2 linked regions of the Homo sapiens genome follow. The protein of the gene in region 1 interacts with the protein of each later gene in a biochemical or structural test. Each region holds a gene or a part of one and is shown in the gene's direction. Other genes may lie near its edges.

The links.
Region 2: the proteins of ACAN (region 1) and TNR form a complex in vitro, tested with the Homo sapiens proteins (one study listed by BioGRID).

Annotation. Positions count from the first base shown.
Region 1 is NC_000015.10:88,797,142-88,808,211, forward strand, and holds the start of ACAN (aggrecan core protein isoform 3 precursor), read left to right. Parts: upstream 1-6,294; 5' UTR 6,295-6,668; intron 6,669-11,070. UniProt on the Homo sapiens protein: This proteoglycan is a major component of extracellular matrix of cartilagenous tissues. A major function of this protein is to resist compression in cartilage. It binds avidly to hyaluronic acid via an N-terminal globular region.
Region 2 is NC_000001.11:175,360,380-175,371,085, reverse strand, and holds part of TNR (tenascin-R isoform 1 precursor), read left to right. Parts: intron 1-3,788; coding exon 3,789-3,878; intron 3,879-4,947; coding exon 4,948-5,211; intron 5,212-5,806; coding exon 5,807-6,076; intron 6,077-7,258; coding exon 7,259-7,378; intron 7,379-8,276; coding exon 8,277-8,423; intron 8,424-10,706. UniProt on the Homo sapiens protein: Neural extracellular matrix (ECM) protein involved in interactions with different cells and matrix components.

The DNA of each region.
Region 1 (11,070 bases):
ATTTTAAGACTGTAATGCTAACAAGTAAATGTCCTAAGAATAAAAGGTAACCCAGCTAAGTACTGATTTTTTTCCTTACATATTCTTCATTTTCTCCCCTTAAAAAAATATGCCCTAAAAAAAAAATACAGCAATAACAACCACTAAAATGTCAGGAAGACTATTCCCCCGCACTATAATATCAAATGAGTGGCAAGTTTTGTGGGGAAAAGTCATGCCCACATCTTAGCAGATCATTTTTAAGCTATGGGGATGCTGCCTGCACCTCTTCTATTTCAATTCTAGCAAATGTTCATGAGATATCATTTCTGCTTATTTTATAAGTGTATATTCTGTATCTATACCATCATGTGTGGAAATCTGGGACAACAATTTTTCTGAATAATCTAATATTTACCACTGAAAGAAACTAAAAATATCAAGCCCAATGTGACAAAGGTTGAGAAGCCAGTCCCAAAAGACTCTAATGGCTGGAATAAGGAAAAGAATAGAGAAGAGCCAGCTACGATCTGGAGTGCGGGAGCCCCTTAGGGTTCGGGGTCAGGGAGAGAAGGTGAGCAGGATCGCATGAGCCTCAGGGGCTGGGGCTGCCAGGAAGTACAAAGCCTAAATCCTCCGACTTCTCTTCTTATTCCAGACTTGCTTGGAAAAAGCTGTTGATGATGATGATGATGATGATGGTGGTGGTGGTGGTTGTGATGATGGTGGTGGGATGGATGCTGATGATGATGGTGATACGTAACATTCCACTCAGCATCACTCACTGAGTATTCTCAATGATAAAAAAAAAAACACTAGTGAGTAATGAATAAAATGCTTGCCATAATTTCCTCTTTTATAAATGGTAGGGTTTTACTAAAAATAAGAATCTGCTATGAATTCAGAAAAAAAAAATTGAAACTGAAGCTTTAAGAGAGTTTCCTTAAACGTGCCCTTCAATTTCTATGTCTTTGGTGACACAGCACTTTCCCGTTACTGTATGTCATTATTCCACACAGACCCGTGGAGGCTTGTGAGTGTTTCATTAACTGTCTCCATGTTCTTTATTATAACATTTCCCTCCTACTTTGCCACTAGTACAGTGTTAAAGTAATAAAACAGCACTTTTCAAGTGTTCCACTAGTTCTCACTAGACTCCACTCCCTGGCCCAGTTCTGCTATAAGAAGGCTTTTCTATATCATGTTTCTATGGCCCTTTGCTTCCAAAAAGGATCACAACGTTCTCTACACATATTACATATAGTATTCATTGTTGCCACACTCCTATGAGGTGGGTATTTTTAGCTTCTTTTACAAACACAGAAAACAGCACACAGGAGAGAATGTACTTACTCAGGCACACCAAATTGTGGGGGCTAGGGGGAAGGAAGAAAATTAACCATCCTTGCACTTTGAGCCAGATCAGTTACTAGGGGCTGACATTCCATATCTTATTTTAATTCTCACAACAATTCCATAAGATAGCTCCATTTTACAGATGTGAAACCAAAATCCAGAGAGGTTAAGAAACTCACCCAAGGTTCCCATGCCAGACCTGGGATTCACATCCAGTGCTCCCGATTACACAGGGAATCTCCTTGCTCCACAGCTCTCTTTGTTGCTTGAGATACACAGGAATCCCTTTCACGGGGGCCCGCATGGAAACAGTCTTCATTTTAATTGCCTGCAAGATTAAATATCAAGCAACAGTGAGATGTAGTTCTGAAACTCAACGATGTTTGGCCATACCGGTAGGAGCAGAATATCCAAATGGTTAGAGAAAAGAGTTGTCCTGGCTCCCCTCTAATCAGTCCACACCTGGGCTTGTGCATCTAATGCCGGGCATTGCATTTTTGAGGGGCATCCACAAACAAGGTTCGCAGAGAGTGAGGAATCCAGAAGCAAACTCCAGAAGAACACTCCCTTGGGAAACAGTCAAAGACCCTGTGAGGAGAGACATGAAGGGTGATGTGAGAACCCTCCTGCACTAACTGGAGGCTGCCCCTGTTGAAATGGGGGCAGACTGTGTTGCTCTAGAGAGCAGAATTGGGCCACTCACTTGTAAAAGAGTTTGGAATGAATGCTTCAGAGGAATTCTGCAAGCACCTTATATTGGGACTTAGCAAGGTACCTTCATGGTGTCCCCATGTATGGGACAGAAATAAGCACTCCATGGTAATACAGTCAGATGGATGGGGGGACTGGCCATGCTCTATGAGTTAGTTTAATGGAGTGTAGAAGCCAGCCTCCAAGATGCCCCCAGTGATCCCCATCCCCTGGTATTCACATCCTGTATGACCCTCCCACACTAGTTCAGGGCTGGCCCTGTGTGGGACTTCCAAAGCTATGACACAGAAGCACTGCACTCCCTGTGTCACTCACTGTGGTGGAAGCCAGCTGCCATGTCATGAGGACACTCAAGCAGCTCCATCGGGAGGCCCTATGGAGATGAAATGAGGTCACTGGCCAGCAGCCAGCACCAATTCACCAATCACGTGAGCGACCCACCTTGGACATGGATCCTCAAGCCCCAGTCAAGCTTTCAGCTAACTGCAGCTGTAACTGACATCTGACTACAACTTCAAGAGCTAGTCCAGGCCAGAACTGCCTGGCGAAGTTTCTCCCAAATTCCCGATCCATAGAAACCATGAGAGATATTAAATAACTATTGTTTTAAGACACTCAGTTTTGAGGTGATTTGTTACACAGCCATTATAACTGGAATATCGGATTATGTCGTTCATTCCAGGGGGGCTGTCTCTAGTGCTCTGCTCTAGAACTCAGCCCTAATCTCCGTCCCAGGCAATATTTTTATGAGCAGCCTGAATGAAAACATAGAAGTGGCACACTAGTTAGCTTTGTAGAATGTCTGCTGCTAAGAGGAATGGCAAACACACAGAATAATAGAGTCAGAATCCAAGATGATCTGAAGTAGTAAACTGAATTAGTTAGTGTAATGTTTAAAAGAAGCAAAAATGAAGCCCCACACTTGGATTGGAAAAACCCATTGTACCAGGATAAGCCAAAGGAGATGCTAGGTGGCAGAAGCACTGTGAAAAGGAAGTCTGAGCTGGCTGCAGGCTCCAAATGAGTCATGATGAGGCTGTCATAAAAGCACATAAATGTTGGCTGCATTACCAGAAGCACAGGACCCAGGTTATTGAGGTGAGCTCTCCTCTGGACCCAATCCAAAAGGGAGAAGGGAGAGACTTGAGATCACTGATTCCAAACAGAAAGGTTTATCACGTGGCAGGAGGTCCTGGGACAGGTTAGGGTTGGGGGGATGGAAATGGGCCTGTCTTGTTCACTGCTGAATCCACAGTATTGGGCATGAGCTTCTGTGAAAGCTGAAAGCTGCCTAAATACAAGAACCACGTGAAAAAAATGGATGTGGCCTCAGAAGGGAGTCAAACTCATGGCCACATCCAAGCAGAGTCTGATGTCCTACTTGAGGGAAACATCATGGACAGGACTGACATACTCTATGGAGGGGTGTCCTTAAAGTTCTCCAAGAGCTCTTCCCAGCTCTGAGATTCTCTTATTCTGTGATTTGTGATTGAATGAGTAGAACCTGCTGAATGATGTCAGCACAGTGCTTCTCAAACTTCAGCAGGCATATACAACACGGGAGGGATCTTGTTAAAATGCAGATTGTGAGTCAGTAGGTCTGGGGAACCTGGCATTCTGCATTTTGAATAAGCTTCCAGGTGACACTGCCAGTCTATAGAACATACTCTGAGCAGCAAGAGGTTAGAAATTGCCAGTTTACAGCAGACTGCATCGGGCAGCCTGGAAAAGGCATTAGGCAACTGTAAAGTATTCTAGCAGAAGAGGAGATGACCAGCTTCAGAAATATTACACTGGAACAGAGCTCCTGAGTTGGACAGGAAGAGCCTGTGTATGCCACCAAGGGCCTTCTGACACGCATGTCCTTTGACTCTCTGAATACTGTCTTTAAAGTGTCCAAATGCGTTGCCATTATCCTGGGTTTTTTGTATCCTTTAGGGCTAGGGAGTGTGAATTCATACCAGCCTGTACTCCAATCCCATTCACTACCTTGATGGCCTCTGAGTCTTGGTTTCTTAGTGTGTAAATGGGAATGGCATCCATCTGAGAGGCTGCTGTACCAAGCAGCATCTGACACATAATAGGTGCCCAATATATGTTTCTTAGACTCATTACAAAACCAGATGATCAATAAACATTTGTTCCCTTCAATACAAAGATAAATCGCCTAATTAATATTTGCCCTTGACTTGTTCTTCATTAACCCCACCTGCCCTAGGATGAATGTTGACATGAACCCATTTTACAAATGAGAGCAATTTGTTCTCCCACAAGGCATCAGGTAAACACAGGCATGAGAATCCATGACCTCGTTGGAATTTCAGGGACTGTTTTTTTCCCAGAGGGTCATTTCTCCCTGTTCCAGGCATTGAGGCCAGTAACTATTAAGATTTCATCTCTTTTTTTTTTTTTGAGACGGAGTCTTGCTCTGTCGCCCAGCCTGGAGTGCAGTGGCGCCGTCTCAGCTCACTGCAAGCTCCGCCTCCCGGGTTCACGCCATTCTCCTGCCTCAGCCTCCTGAGTAGCTGGGACTACAGGCGCCCGCCGCCACGCCCGGCTAATTTTTTTGTATTTTTAGTAGAGATGGGGTTTCACCGTGTTAGCCAGGATGGTCTCCATCTCCTGACCTCGTGATCCGCCCGCCTCGGCCTCCCAAAGTGCTGGGATTACAGGCGTGAGCCACTGCGCCCGGCCTCATCTCATTTCTTTATCTGTGAGAGAAGCCACTATCACCCCCTAAGGGGCTTCGGTCACCAGCATTTTGTCTGTGTCCTAAATGCTTCAAGACTTACAGACCTGACTCAATACGCTCAGGTAGAAAAAGGGTGAAATCAAGAATGGCCAACCACTGGAACACTTTAGCCATTGCTCTGAGAGGTGGGTGGATAGAGTGGGCACTATGCTCCCTCCGACGGGGCTTCACTGCCCTGGACAGGGGAGAGACAGGCGGCTCACAGAGCATGTGCTGGGCCAGGGCCAGTCCCGCCCCCAGGCAGAGATGGCCAGTAAAATAACCACATAATTCCAGTGGAGTCGCCCTGGGGAAACCGAGGCACTTCAGTTCCTTTTCATCAAGGAACTGATTAAAGTGTGGTCTATTATCTCTGTAGTGGGGAGTCCCGAAAGATTCCACTTCTTCCTCTTCTTGCCCAATGAGAGGGTCAGGAAGCTTCCACCACCATCCTGACTGTGGCCACCACATCCTGGTGTGAAGCACCACCAGCTTCCTCCACAAGAACTCTGAAGGTCACCAGCCAGCTTGAGTCCTCCGAAGGTGCTGTGGCTCAACCAGCAGCCTGTGTAGCAGAGAGCACAAGACCTGGGACTCGAACTCAGTCCCACCTTCAAGAGGGATCTCCACCACTTTCTGAGCCTCAGTTTTCACATCTTTGGTTAGGGGCAGGTGGGAAGTTGCCATATTTACCTTGTTGGGCTCTTTGGAAAAATTAAATGAAATGTTAATGTATGTTACACAACGGGCTCATAGGAGGGATTCAAAAGCTGCTAGTTCTTTTTCTCCTTTTCCTGAAAACGGTATTAAAGAGTACTGTAGAGACACTGGAGAATTCCTGCTTCATATGAGATGTCCTTGGTCTCTCCCGGGGAATTTGAAGACCCAGAGACTCGCAGCTCCCCGTGAGCCTCCCCGCTGACGCCTTACCTCCCCCTCTCCACCATCCCCTGCCATCCCGGTGTACGCCACCCCCAAAAAAACTTTCAGCCAGCTCCTCGGTGAGGGTCGTTCCAAATCGTGGCCGACAGTAGCGGGCTGCACCCTCCTTAGATCGCGTCGTGGCCAGCCTCAGCTGCAGAACCCCGCCGGGCGCCCGGGAGCCCTGTCCCGCCGCGGCGGCCTCAGAGTCCGGGCACTTGGGGATTCTCTGAGGGTGCAGCCCTCCTGGGCCCCTCCGACTGCGGAGCTGCCGACCGCAATGCAGATGCGGGCCCTCCAGCCCTTCTCGCGCCGCCTTCCTCCCGCCAGCCCCGGAGCTGCCGGGTCCGCGCCGCCCCGGGGAGCGCTCCTCTCCCGCCCTGAGCGCAGGCCGGCTTCCCCATCGGCGCGCCGGTCCGGAGCCAGGGTCCAGCGCGCTCCAGACGCCTCTGCCTTCCCCTCCCCCTGTCGGCCGCCCCTCGGTCCCTGGGGGTGGGGTTTCCCTTTGCGCTCGCCCCCTCCCGCCCCCACCCCTCACGGGCCCTCCCCTCCCCCGCCCGTCCCTATGTATGTGTCACAGCGCGCCATGCCCGCCCGCCCGCCCACCTACCTCCCCGCCGCTCCAGAGGGGGCTCGCAGAGCTGAGGACGCGCGCAGCGCTGCTCAAGGTCTCTCTCTCTCAGCACCCTCGCCGGCCGGCGTCTGACGCGGGTGCCAGGGTCTCCGGGCACCTTTCAGTGTCCATTCCCTCAGCCAGCCAGGACTCCGCAACCCAGCAGTTGCCGCTGCGGCCACAGCCCGAGGGGACCTGCGGACAGGACGCCGGCAGGAGGAGGGGTGCGCAGCGCCCGCGCAGAGCGTCTCCCTCGCTACGCAGCGAGACCCGGGCCTCCCGGCCCCAGGAGCCCCCAGCTGCCTCGCCAGGTGTGTGGGACTGAAGTTCTTGGAGAAGGGAGTCCAACTCTTCAAGGTAACTGTCTCCTTCCCTCCAGAGCGAGGCTCTCCCAGGGCGCCCGGCGAGCCAGGAACGGGACTGAGACTGCACGCCCCGGGGCTGGGGGCTGCACTGCCTTGGTCTCCGCCCTAGAGCTATGTGTGCCGGGGGCGCAGCACATCCACCGGCTGCGTCCGCGGTGGAGTTGAGCAAACTTTTTGGCTGTTGCAGACTCAGTGAATGGGGCAAAGGAACACGTGAGGAGGGGCACTTGTCTCCTAGTCCGCCAGGATGAAGGAACAAGGGAGCCTTTTCTCCAAACACCTAGGTGATTTTAAATCCTAGGGTCTGGAAAGACCCATGGTTGACAGAGTAGCAGCTTCAGAGTCAAGGGAATGTGGGTTCAAATCCCCGAGGTGCTACTTTTGAGCTGGAAGGTGTGCTTCACCTTCCTGAGCCTTGGCCTGCCGTCTGTCAGCTGAGAGGGAAAAGGCCTTCGCGGGGTCTGGAAGAATAAATGAAATCATATGGACACTATGTCAGGGACACAGCGGGTCCTAAGCCGAGGCTAGATAGTCCATCCTTGGCCACTTGGCTTACTCCAGGGACCAGAGTGCCTGAAGAGTCTGCCCAGGGGAGAGTGGCAGAACCTGGGACAGAGCTACTGAACTGCCAGCAGGGGAGAGGAGAGCAGTGCCCTGAACACACGGGTGTCCAACCAAGAAGGGGCATTTCTCAAGGAAGAAAGGGGAGGGGAGTTGAGGACACACGACCACGAGCGGTTTTTCCGTCTGTGGGTTCCTCTTCAAACGAAGCCAATGCTGGTGGAGCAGGAGCCCTTTCCAACCCTGGGGCTGGGTTGGAGGCTGTCAGTATGTCAACTGAACCACACTCTGGGCAGAGCAAGCTGCGGGGGTGGGGGCTTGTCTCTGGTTGTGAGACAGGATCCAACCCAAACTTTTCCATCATTATCCTCCTTTCAGTCATGAGCTGGGTTCTGACAGGATCCTACTAGGGTTTCACCATGAAGAAGCTGGAGTTCCAGCATGTTGACTGATGTGTAAATTCTGGTTCTGTGGGGCTGGCTGCCAGGAGGAAAATACAAAGCTGAATTGGGTTAGCACGGTGTTTTGGGGTCCTGGGTGCTGCAGTGGGTGGGTGTCTGACAGTTTAGAGGGGACTCTGGACCTTGAAAATTCACCCACCTCGTCTGAAGAGGAGGGCAAGTGGACCCAGAAAGGTGCAATGAATTTCTGAAGGTTGAACTGTGACTTAGGGTCAAGGGCAGAACTAGAATCCAGGTTTTCTGAGGCCATAGTCGGTCCCTCGTCCTGATTTAAGAGTCCAGAATTCTTGGGTTCTAATCCTTATCTCTCTTTCTTGTCCTGGGTTGCCATGGACAAGGAGCAATCAGGTTGCTCATGCACCCTGGGCAAGGTGGGTTTGGAGGCACTATGAAGATACGGTTTAGGAGTGTTGGCTTGTCAATCACAGGCTCCAGGGAGAAACTGCAGGAAATGGAAAGGCAATGGGGAAGAAAACCCTGAAGCTCGTTGGGGGAGGAAGCATTGAGCGGCAGTGGGGAGGAGAGGTTCTAACCTGAAAGAAAGATTGCAGAATAGTAGATCTCCCCAGTATAAAAAGTTTCAGAAGAAGGAATTGTCCAAAGGAAGAAGATATCTCTTGGAGAGATGCTGGAATTCCACAGGTTACCTTGAGCTGTGTTTAATTTAGATATTCTTACGTGTAGTTTCTAGTGCTGTGCCTGGTATTTTCATTCATTCTCCAATATCTGCTGAGCGCCACCTAGGTGCCAGGCTCTGTGCTCAATGCTGGCCCACAGCGGGTACTCAATAAACAGCAGATATGAGATGACCCAAGCAAAGGGCTTAGCGTAGTGCCTGGCACTGGGCAAGTACTCAGTAACTGTTTCATATTATTAATATTACTATTATCATTCTTAATTCTAGTAGTAAATGAATGTTTTTCTTTTTCTAGAATATTCACTGACAATCATACTTAAAAGGGAATATTTTGTTTAATGTTCGGAAGCCCTCCACACACCCAGGCACACCTCTTGCCCCTGTTCCCCATCTCTCTCACACCCACACGCCCAATCCCAGGCAGCCACTCACCCCTGCATGCCAAGGCAGAGCGTTCTCCTCCTCTTATGCCCCCTCCCCAATTAGAGAGGGAGCTCCAAGAGAGAGCTCACCTCCTGAGACAGTCGGCAAGAGCCAGGAGGGTGGACAGCCTGCATGCAAGGAAGACTGGGATTCAAATTCCAGCTCAGCCACTCGCTGGCTACATGGCTTTGATAAGGGTACTGAGCCTCCCAGAGGCTTCATTTCCTCTTCTCTAAAAAGGGGAGAAAATCCTCCGATAAGAGATTTTTGTGAAGATTAAAAGACATAAAGTGGGTGCCTTGTCCAGCTCTCAGCAAGCACCACAAACTTTAATTCCTCTCCTCTAACAGCTCCTAAGCCCCCTTGTGGGTCACAAACCCCAAGTTATGGATAGCAAAAATTTCAAATGTTTTCTCTTGATAAGAGACTGTGTGTCCTAACTTTTGGTGTGAATTTTTTTTTTTTTTTTAAGATGGGAGTCTTGCTCTGTTATCCAGGCTAGAGTGCAGTGGCCCAATGTTGGCTCACTGCAACCTCCGCCTCCCAGGTTCAAGTGATTCTTGTGCCTCAGCCTCCCAAGTAGCTGGGGTTACTTGTGTACCACCACGCCCGGCTAATTTTTGTATTTGTAGTACAGACGAGATTTCACCATGTTGGCCAGGCTGGTCTCGAACTTCTGACCTCAGGTGATCGCCTGCCTCAGCCTCCCAAAATGCTAGGATTCAGGCGTGAGCCACCATGCCCAGCCAGTGAATTTCTTTTTAATGATTCCTTCTAGAACTGGGTTCCTCCCAAGACCCTTCTTATTGGGCCCTTAGGAGGACCTCAGCTGAGCCAAAGGAAGCCCATGAGACCCTGCCTAGAGTCCCACTTTGAGTCTGTCTCTGCTGCTGCAGGGATGTCTAGCACCAGATTTGTCCAACTGCAGGTTGTGAGATCAATTTAGCGGGGTTCTTAATAAAATAGGAAATACCAGATAATCTCATAGTGCCTCCTATGTAGCAAAGGTAAGTACTGTTTCTGGAAACTTTTGTTTCTGTTATTTATTTTGAAGCCCTCTATAAGGGTATGTATGTTTATAATATAAATGTATATATGCAAATATATACAAATTTGATATTTGCATATATTTTTATTTAATTTTTTTTTTACTATATTGGTCCCAATGATGTTTCTGTCTCAGAAATTTCAGCATTGTGGCCCTAGGTGGCAGGTGCTGGGGCATCCTTGCTGCCACTGCACCAAGTGCTGGGGAGTCAAGGCAGCTGAGGTGGAAGCTGGAGTTGGGGAAAGGCAAGTTCAAGGAAGAGGACCCAGAGTCAGAGAGGAAGCAGGGCATGGAGGAAGGTCTGCTTATAAGTAGAGCAGGGGAGGGGACAGGCCAGCAGCTGCCCTGGGAAAGGGGATCAGGAGCACATCTTGGGAACAGGAGCCTTCCTCTCCTGCTGTCAACGGCCTGGCCTCGTGGCCATGCTTCGTGTCCTGATGGTAGCCGCACTGCCGCCCTGATAACTTAAAGGAAGCCCCTTCAATGGGATGAAGGGCCCGTTTCTGTGACAGCTACTTTGGGAGTGGCAGCTCCCCTTCCCCCAGATCCAACAGGACACAGCCATCCCTGCGAGGGAGTCTGGGCCCCTGGACGCAGTTGAAGAAGGGCCACTGGGAGGCCGGCAGAACAAGGGGAGGGCTGGAGAAGGAGCGGGAGTGCAGGCGAGAGGAGGACCAGAGAGGGGGAATTTGTAGAGAAAACGGTAAAACGGTTTCTTTTTTCAAAAGTTGAATCCAGGGCAAGAACGGAAACGGTGGAGTTTACTTTTAAAAACTCAGAGCCTCCTTATAAGTGGTGGAGTGTGTGTGTGTGTGTGTGTGTGTGTGTGTGTGTGTGTGCATGCTGGCAGGGCGGGCCCTGCGGGCTGGCCAGGCCTGTGAGAGGTGACTTCTCTCCCTCTCAATGGCCTTACAGTGTATCCTAAAGAAGCTTTTTGTTAAACTCATGAATAGGTGGATTTGGGGTGTGTGATGCTGGGCATCACGATTTGGATATTTGGTTACCTTTGAGGTTACATGTTTTTCCTCTTAAGATACACACTCAAAAAAGGAGCCACCTCTTCTGTGTAGGTCACTATTTTGGTGTATGTGGGGGCGGGGGTGCCTGTCTTTCTGTAATTGATTTGACTGGAGGGGTGAGGGTAAGAAGGAGAAACACAGGACATGGCAGATCTGCAATGCCTGACCTGGGAGACAGCCTCCCTCAGCTCCCTGGTCTCTGGCAGTCCCCAGATCACAGATGCCCAGGGCCTTCCAGGCCTGTG
Region 2 (10,706 bases), on another chromosome or scaffold:
GTGGTTTTTTTTTTTTTCCAGCAGAACTGTGTCTAACCTGCTGGCAAAGAGCAACAATTCACTTGTAGCATGGAAGAAAGCTGCTGAAAATCAAAGGAAAGCAGCAGGCACAAACCTATAAGCAAGTCCCACTTTTCCATCCTCTAGACAGAAAACCTGGGAAGAGAACACATTAAATTCTGCTCTGCAGTTTTCTGGGAGAAGATGATTCCATTGTAAATTATTGAACATTTCATTTAAGCTTCATAAATAAGAAACTGGGATGAAAATGTTACATGTTAGATCTGTTTGGCAACGTATAATTTCTGTCTTACTCCCTCCATCTGTCACCCTTCATCTATGTTGGAGAATTTCTACTTCATTATAGGCAATTGAAGGTCTTAATCAGTTGCCTGATAAAAGTAGTTTATGTCCCAAAGGTAATCTCATTTCTGCAACCAAGGATGTACCTGGAACTCACTGAACATATTGATGGAGATAAATGTGTGCTTCAAATGGATCAGGGGGTATTGCAATCACCCACTCAATCTAGAGATAGGTACTTGGCCCAGCCAGGGAGAAGGTCCTCACTGCCACCTGGACTCCCTGAATCACTGGTTTCCAACAGAGCCAACAGGCTAAGCCCCAGCAAACCAATAACAAGAAGTCAACAGGTGCACCCAGGACCGGCCTGTACTTGCCTGGGGCGGTTTTTGTAGTTGATGAGACCACTCACCAAAAAAAAAAAAAAAAAAAAAAAAAAAAAAAGTACTCAAAATCCAGGAATAGTTCTCTGTGCAAAGTAATAAAATACTAGCTACTACCGCTAAGATCCAGGCACTGGACTTTAAACACTTTGACTCATATAATCCTCATGATGACCCTCTGATATAGATGCTGTTTTTATTCTCATTCTTCAGAAATTGAGGTTCATAGATGTTAAGTAATCAAAATTACACAGGTAAAAAGTGAAAGAGACCAAATATAGATATGTCAGACGTCAAAGTCTGTCAAACTTCAAAGTTTACCTCCACTGGTGTTGCCACTTTAGAGAAAGAAAGAATTAAGGGTTGGGAAAGAAAGGGAGCTGGTTTAAGAAGAGAAAAAAGAGGGCTGATTCGAATGCCTACCCAGACAGGGCTTCGGGACTGCATTCCTGGGAGAGAAACTGGCCTGGTAAGCTCTGCCATGCTTAAGCAACATTTATTGCATGGACTCCACAAAAGCCTACTGAGGAAGGGGATGAAGAACCCCCTGGCTGCCAGGCAGCATTCCTCTTGACCAAGCCAAGCCATTTGTTAAAGGAATGTTGCTCAAAGTATTTCCGATCAAAATCAGGGATTCCAGAGAAATCACAGCTGCCCTGAGCGGTGGAAGGAAGTAATAGGATGTCCCATTCCTCCTAAAAGCCCTGAACTCTGAGACCAGAATCCGGGGGGGCATCTCTAGCTGGTCACAGACTTACTCCGTGCCACAGTTTCTTTTTATAAAAAGATGATGTACTCTGTTGAATAACAGTCCCCTCAAAATGCATGTCCACCCCAAACCCTTATTTCCAAATAAGGTCTTTAGAGATGCAGTAGAGTTAAGATGAGGTCATACTGGATTAGGGTGGCCCCTAAATTCAATGTGACTGGTGTGTTTATAAGAAGAGGGGAAGACACAGACACACATGTGTCTACAGAGGCAGAGACTGGGGTGACGCAACTACAAGCCAAGGAATGCCAGGGAGTGCTGGCAACCACCAGAACCTAGGTCTCCTAGAGCCTTCAGAGGAAGCATGGTCCTGGCGACACCTTGATTTCGGACTTCCAGACTTCAGAACCGTGGGAGGACACATGTCTGTTTTAAGCCACACTGTGTGTGGTAATTTATAACAGCATCCACAGGAAGCTAATGTAGATGGAGAAAAGACTGCTTATCCCACCTTCCTCCCAAGGTTGTGATGAGACTCTAAAACACAATCCATTTTGAAAAGCACAGATGTTATATAAATACAGAATACCATTCCAATCAGCCATGAGCCCACACAAAGCCCCAAAAAGAGCCTACCGGAAGGACTCAGACTGACCACTGGAGGCCCTCAGGGTGATCACTTGATTTTGTTGGGTTTTTTTGTTTTGTTTTTGTTTACTTGTTTGTTTGTTTTTGTTTTTTTGATACAGAGTCTCACTCTGTCACCCAGGCTGGAGTGCAGTGGCATGATCTTGGCTCACTGCAACCTCAGCCTCCCAGGTTCAAGCGATTCTCCTGCCTCAGCCTCACAAATAGCTGGGACTACAGGTGCACACCACCACACCCGGCTAATTGTTGTAATTTTAGTAGAGATGGGTTTCACCATATTGGTCAGGCTGGTCTCGAACTCCTGACCTCAGATGATCCACCCGCCTTGGCCTCCCAAAGTGTTGGGATTACAGGCATGAGCCACCGTGCCCTGCCTTTGTTGGGTTTTTCTACAACCCCAGTCCTAATAGATAAAAATGAGTTTGATGCCAGTTGTAATAGATGAAATAGCCCTCAAAGAATCCCCAGCATCTGTGAATATAACCACCTTACAGGGCAAAAAGGACTTTGCAGGTGTGATTAAGTTAAAGATCTTGAGAAGGAGAGACTAGCCTGTACTATCCAGGTGGGACCAACATGATCGCAAGGATTTTCATAAGTGGATGTAGGGAGGTCAGAGTCAGAGTAGATGCAATGATAGGAGCAGAAGTCAGACAGAGAAAACAGATTTGATCGTTTCAAGCTTCTGGCTTTGAAGATAGATTAAGAGACCATGAACCAAAGAATGCAGGCAACCTCTAGAAGCTAGAAAAGGCAGGGAAATGGATTTTCTCCTAGAGCCTCCAGAAGGAAGGCAGCCCTGCTGAACTACTTTAGACTGCAGACCTCCTGAACTAACTGTAAGAGAATCCACTTTTGTTGTTGTAAGTCACTAAATTGTGGTGATGTGTTACAGCAGCAATAGGAAACTAGTACACCAGTCAAACCAGTTAGTCTGAAAATAAATGTGAAAGAGGTCAAGGAGAGAACCTAGAGAATTCCAGATATTCTAGGAGGTTCTCAGAGATCCTTTGTAGTAAACCTCCCAAAGGATTTCCTCAGAGAAGCTTACACCCTTTAGTGGGACAGTTTTTGTGTCTCCTCTGTCTTCCTGGACTCCCCTGAAAGTTATTCTAAAATTAGATCCACAGCTTTAGATACCCTGAGGCCTGAATTACTGAACTTGGCGGGGGGCCTACAGCAACAGGACTTCTGCATGCTCCTACTCGACAGCCCTGTGCTTAGAAAAAAAAGTCCATCCACTGTTCCTCCCTAGAAGGGACCCAGGAGTCCCCATATGGCCTCAGCTCCTGTAAAAGGTGTAGCTTGGTCCTTGTATATAACATTCAAGGAATGCTTTTCAGGTCTATGTCCACACTGTCTCTCTTGATTACATACTCCCGAAATTCACAATTTAAGCAAGAAATCCTCTCGCTGGTTCAAGCCAACCTGAGACGCTAAGCATACAAGGAGTCCTTGTATACTTATGTGAGCACACCTCTGAAGGTCACTGACAAGGCAGCCTCACTGCCTTCCCAGAGAGCCTGCCTGCAAGAAGGAAGCTCTGCGTGGGCTGGTTCATCCTATTGACTTGGGATTCCTAAATAGTGAAATTGGGATTTCTTAATAGTTCAAATTAGGAGAGGATTCAAGGAGGACTAAACACAAGATATGAATAGGAGTCTAAGATCATTTTCTTCCCACTTTCAGCCTTCCTAGCCCTGCCCCATACACAGAATAATGTTTGTTTCTCCATCCACTGATAGATCTGGTACCTGGCACTGAGTATGGAGTTGGAATATCTGCCGTCATGAACTCACAGCAAAGCGTGCCAGCCACCATGAATGCCAGGACTGGTGAGTAGGAGGACTGCTGAGGAAGAAGACCAGGTTAGCCTATAAGCCTAAGGAGTCATGGAGGCTCGTCCCAGCAAAAATTAATCAGAAAGCAATGTCTTCCAGTGAACAGGGCTCTGGTGACAACTGTCAGCCTAGAAACAACATCCACCCTATGCCTAATCCTTGATCTCTGACAGGCAGGACAGAGTCACCCTCTTCCCCACAGACCTGTGCTCGGTCCCCCGTGGTCTGAAGAGCTGCTCAGGGCTGTACAGAGCAGAGGTGGAAAATCCTAAATAGGTTGATGCCATTGCAGGCCATATTTTTATCTAGACCACCCCGACAGCAGGCAGAATGGGGCATCCTCGCCCTGCATACACCACAGAGGTCCTCACAAACGCCACTTGGGTGAAGGTCTAGACTTGCAACAACCCATTAAATCTGAGGGCAGAAGAAAAGTCCAGCTGAGACCCTTGCTGCTCTGGATTCAGCAGTTTTGCTTCCAAATCCTGGGTAAATTTCAAAGTCATTTCAGCACCTATGGTACTAGCAGCCTGGGCTGGGCTAGGGATTTTAGACCAGTCCTTGTCCCAAGGTTCAGCCTCTCTAGAGAACCACATGGACAAAAGTCTCCAGGTCCTCAGATCTAGCTGCCTGCCTGGCTATGGTTAGAACAAGTCAAAATAGCCTCAGGGTTGGAGGGTGGTGCGCTTCTGTTGCCAGGAATGGCATATCCCTACTTGGTGGTAGCTACCATTTTATCCTTATTGGCTCATTGAGAAAGGATGGGAGAAAATGAATATGGCGAGCTTGAAAATCAGCAGCCAGCTTTGTCCCAGAGGTGGATGCAATCCAGTGGTATCAGAGCTCATCACGGCTTTCTTCAGATTGTTCATCTATTTGCCAAGCCCCTGGCCATCATTCAGAGGGAAGGTACTTAGCAAAATATTAGATAAGTGTCAGCAATGACAAGCTAGTGCTCATAGTCAGCAGGCCTGCTGATAGCTTGGAAACACACAAAGCAGGCCAATAAATACTGCCCTCCAGGGGAACACATGTAAAATAGGCCATTTATGTCAATCCACAGAACTTGACAGTCCCCGAGACCTCATGGTGACAGCCTCCTCGGAGACCTCCATCTCCCTCATCTGGACCAAGGCCAGTGGCCCCATTGACCACTACCGAATTACCTTTACCCCATCCTCTGGGATTGCCTCAGAAGTCACCGTACCCAAGGACAGGACCTCATACACACTAACAGATCTAGAGCCTGGGGCAGAGTACATCATTTCCGTCACTGCTGAGAGGGGTCGGCAGCAGAGCTTGGAGTCCACTGTGGATGCTTTCACAGGTACCAGAGCAGCAGAAATCCCAGCCAGGTTCAGGGATCAGTGGATCTCAGTGTGAGAAATTCATTCAGGCAAGTCACTCTTCCAATGTTCCATTTCCTTTGGAGAAAAGAGAGGTGGGTAGAAAAGGATAGAGTAAAAACTAATAAGTGCATCAAGAGGGAAGGGTTGGAAGTAAAGAGGGGAGGTGAGCAATAGTGTTACCTGCCTGAAAACTTGTGTCTGGCTTTTCTATGGCCTTGACATAGTAGTTGATTCTGTCCATCTTTCCCTGCTGCAGTAAATCAGTGGGAATTCAGAGGATCCATGGGATCATATAAAATTCATTCCAGGATACAGGCTTTCAATCCTGGTTCAGTATTATGATTAACTCACAGAAGTAGTTCTCATTTTAACAGAATCCATTTTCCTATATTTGGATTGGAAAAAGTGGAGTGAACAGCACTGGAGGGTGAGGAGGTGGAATCTCTTGGTTAGTGGGTGAAGGTGTGGCCCTTATTAGCAAGGAGAGCAGGTCCCTTTAGCCAAGAAGTTCTTCTAGCCCAGTGACCCATCTCCTCACGTGTTTCAGGACCATCCATCTCCTTTGCTTTGCAGGCTTCCGTCCCATCTCTCATCTGCACTTTTCTCATGTGACCTCCTCCAGTGTGAACATCACTTGGAGTGATCCATCTCCCCCAGCAGACAGACTCATTCTTAACTACAGCCCCAGGGATGAGGAGGAAGAGATGATGGAGGTCTCCCTGGATGCCACCAAGAGGCATGCTGTCCTGATGGGCCTGCAACCAGCCACAGAGTATATTGTGAACCTTGTGGCTGTCCATGGCACAGTGACCTCTGAGCCCATTGTGGGCTCCATCACCACAGGTGAGGCTGGAGGACTTGGCAGCAGGTGATGAAAGGGGTTTTCACAGTAGCCTTTGACAAATCAATGAAATTTTAAAAGAGAAAGACCCAAGGAGTAGGGGATTTCCTCTATGGCTAGAGAAAGTCTGTGACCTGTTCTGAAACAGCTACTTCCTCCAGTGCTGCAGAAGATGCATTAGATAAGAAACTCCCACTTGGAAGGTGGGACAAAGTCAATGTCTTGAGGAGGTCAAAGCTTGAATGCATTTGTCCAAAAGACCTCCCACTACCAGCTTAGAAGAAAAGCACTGGAGAAAGCTAGTCTCCAAGAGGAATCCCTCTACAGTGAAGAGACACCTGTTCCTATTCTGAAGAACCATCTCTTAACTGCCCAGAAAGTTCACTCGTACAATAATGCTTCCTTAGTCTCACATGGGACTAGCATGCAATCAGGTAGTGACCTGGCACTCAGAGAATGGGGTTGATTTGGATGTTGCTTAGAAAACACAGGCACTCAGAGATGAATTGGATCAGTCCCAGCTCATTATTCCCAAACACAGTTTCAAATATGAGGTACATGTGGGTGAAGATATGTATGTTTGGGTAGTTTCCTCCTTACTAACAAGAACTCACAAACTGGACAAGTAGATTAAACACTTAGCTGATCAACTCTGTGATCCCCTAGCAGTAAAAAAAAAAAAAAGCCCATAGCATAAATGAAATACAATTTAGGAAAATGGATTTGTTCTGGACTTGTGCTCTGAAATCCCTGTATAGTCAATAGGCAGTTTTTCAAAACTGAAACCAAAGGTGGCTGCTAAAGAATAAGAGATACAGGCAAAATTTGGTTTATCTTAAAAAATTACCTCAGAGAAAATGCCTATGTTTCTCCCAATTCAAAACAAAACATATGAACTTAAAAAAAAAGTTCCTAGTTGGCTTGCAGATAGGTAACAGGTACAGAGCTTGCCAGCTTGTCTTCATGTTGTTAAAATATTCTCCATGAACATAGCTTTGGTCATACCTACAAGGTTTCAAGTGAAACATCAGCGTGACCATGGTTTTAAGATACCCTATTACATGGAAAGATCTTGTCTGCCTTTGGGACAACATTGGCTTTTGGTCAACATAAAACCAGGGATGAGAATTTCTTTTTCACACTGTGCTTTCTGTCTTTTTCCCACAATCACTGGGTCCTTGTAGGAATTGATCCCCCAAAAGACATCACAATTAGCAATGTGACCAAGGACTCAGTGATGGTCTCCTGGAGCCCTCCTGTTGCATCTTTCGATTACTACCGAGTATCATATCGACCCACCCAAGGTAACAAAGTGATTTGATTTCTCAAAGATACTAGGATTTGGGTGAAGATTATGGGAGAACTAGCATATCCCGCAGAACATCCACTCCTGCCTGCGTTTTTCCTCTTCTCTGTGGCATGCTGCATCAGAATGAGAGTGGGCTGGTGAGCAGCCAAGAAACCCCACACTCACCAATGCCTCTTGAGAAAGGCTTGATTACATTCACCCAGAGAGCAGGCCCTTCACTAGCAGAGGTAACTGATCACCATTATCTAGGCAGTGTCTTGAGAAAAAAAGAGCCCCAAAAGAATCTGCCAAGAGCTTGGGTCACATGAATATTCCTACAAGAATGAAGTTCAAGACTAGGATCCAGAGGGATGGCTAAAGACCCAGCAAAGCCAGATGGAGCCTTGGAGGGAAGCACAGTGATGTGGTCCCATTTCAGCCACTCCAGACAAGTTATGAGTCAGAGGAAACTGGCCCAGACCTCACCTGCATCCTGCCAGTTCTTGCTGGTACATGTGGCATTTTTAAGGAAGTGGAGGGCACACTCACTTCCAGTGAGGACACAGGACAGCATTCCAGACTACACTGTCTCTGGACTGTGGGGACTGCTCCTTGCATCGGTGCCCTCTACACTGCCTTAATGTCATTGTCTTAGAGAAGACCAGCTTGTTAGAAAACCACTTAATAGGTAGGTCATTTTTCTTTGCTCCAAGGAGCCCATAAAATGAAGGAGTGAGACCAGTGTGCAAAGCCTCTTCACACTCCAACATTCCCAGCCCATGAACCATGTATCATCCCTCCCCACTGAGTGCGGAGTCCCACACCCATCTGTGCTTTATTGACATAGACTGTACCATGGGCTGCTTGGATGAAAGGGCTGCTGAATTTTAACTGTAGATTCTTCTCTTCTCCAGTGGGACGACTAGACAGCTCAGTGGTGCCCAACACTGTGACAGAATTCACCATCACCAGACTGAACCCAGCTACCGAATACGAAATCAGCCTCAACAGCGTGCGGGGCAGGGAGGAAAGCGAGCGCATCTGTACTCTTGTGCACACAGGTGGGAATGTCTCCCTGCTGTGTCAAGTCAGAACCCTGGCTGAAGATCTGGGTGAAGTTGTTCGGGCTTGTAGAAAGGTTCTGGAGGCTAAGGCTCCATTTCGGGGTGCTCCTCCAACTCACTGTGTCTTGCAGGGCAATTTGCAATTTCTCTCCCCCAATATTCCTCCCTAATACTAAACGTTTAGAGAGTCACCCTCTAGAAGTCTTGCTGGTTTAGGTTAGGAATTTTCATGGAACTTCCAACATAAACAGTGCCCTTTCAGACATATAATGGAAGTGAATTCTAAAACAGATATCTGAATCATTCATCTGATTTTGTAAAAGACTCAGATGAGAAAATTTCACCTCGAGAAGAAAAGGGTTGTTATTCCAGTAATGGAATGGGGTCATGAAATTCATCATCAGATATAGCCAGAAACCACCAAGAAGGTGCCTTTGCTCTTGCTTTGTGCTCCAGGGAGAAAGAAGGCACCAAAGTGGCCATAACTCCCTCACCCGGGACCAAAGCAGTGAAGGTGATGTGGCTCCGTGTGCATCCTGGGCTGCCTGCAGGGGCACCGTGTAGCTCATGTCTCTGACAGGCCCCCTAGTCAGATCCAGATGTCTTCTGCATCCTCCATCAGCTCCTACATAATGACCAGAGGAAGGGAGGTGCAAGGGAGAGACTGGCTTGCAATATGGGAAAGTGAGGAAAGGTAGTCCAAATCCCATGGCCTCCCTCTTGAAAACAAGCCCACGCAATGGGGCTGAAGAGAAGGCTCCTTTGCTAGCACCACTGCTCCTCCGTCTCTGGCCCCTCAGCAAGTACACCAGGCAGAACATGCAAAGATTCGCTGCAGAACTCACTAGCAGGCACAGCCAAAGTGTTCTATTCCCATACCCTAGACCAAACCTCCTAGTTAAGCCATCATTCCCACAGCACGTGGGAAAACATCCAGCTTGCCTCATTAGGAGAACACCTGGATTTTCTACAGTTGCTTAATTTCACTGGAGAATGGTATTTCCCAAATGAGGGAAATATACTTTAGAATTCCTTACTGCTTTCGTAGATGTTCTCGGAAGCTCAGAAACAGCATCTCTAAGGCAATGGGCCAAGAAATATTCCTTCACAAACACAAAAATTATTCTTCTAAAGACAGCGCAGGATATTCTGATCCTCCCTAGTCTCCTTCCAGGCTTATGACAACAGATAACACAGCCATTCAGTTTTGCCCTATCTATTAAATTACCTGTGACCATTAAAATATCAACAAGTGTTGGCCAGAAGTGAGGTCCAATACACCAAAAGAAGCCTCTATCCCACCTTCTTGAACCAAGAAATTCATATTAAAGAAATTAGCCTTTTTCCCATTGAGGACAATAAAATGTATTTCAAGAGCCTCCTATCCCCAAGATAAAAGAGACCAGCAACTTCAATCAAAAACTCATTTCTTTAGCCAGGCATGGATGCATGCACCTGTAGTCTCAGCTACCAGGGAGGCTGAGGCAGAAGGATCGCTTGAATCCAGGAGTCCAAGGCTACAGTGAGCCATGATCATGCCACTGCATGCCAGCCTGAGTGACAGAGCAAGACCTTGTCTCTCAAAAGAAAAAAAAATCCTTGGGTCATGAGCAGCTAGTATCTCTAAAGCAGATATTTGGTACACCAACCCAAATGGTATGCCCATCCAAACTGCCCTCCTTTAAGTCTAGGCAGAGCTATTTTAGCAACTTCCAATAACTAGATTGCCCCAGAATGTCTTATTTTGCTGTTGTATGTTTGTTGTGGTTTTACGTTGAGGTCTATGATCTTACAACTTTTGGAAGTGAGTGCTCCTTCAGGGTGTCATGTTTGTCTCGTGGTATCATGCATGTCTCAGATAGATCAAGCCAAGTGTAGTCTAAGGGCTGCATTTGAAGAACTCTTTGAACATGCAGATTATGGATACAATTCCAATTTTAACATGAAAATATTGTGCAGGTTGTTTCTTTGTGATAAAGGACATAGGCAAGTGAAAAAAATACTTTCAATTAGAGAATAGGGCAAGATCCACAGCAGATCTTGGTTCTCAAAAGTAAATTTTATGACACTTGGGTTGAGCTGATAACTAAACTGTTGTAATAACATCCACTTGTGATAAATTATAACCTGATGGAAGAGAAGCACAGTAATAAAGCAAAGACTTAGAGCATGGGCAAGTAAGACTAGGAAGATGATCCTATGACAAGCACAATCTTTTCCTCTAACAGGCCCTTTTGACCTACCTAAGCCTGGAAGAATCCTCTTGACTCTTAATGCAAC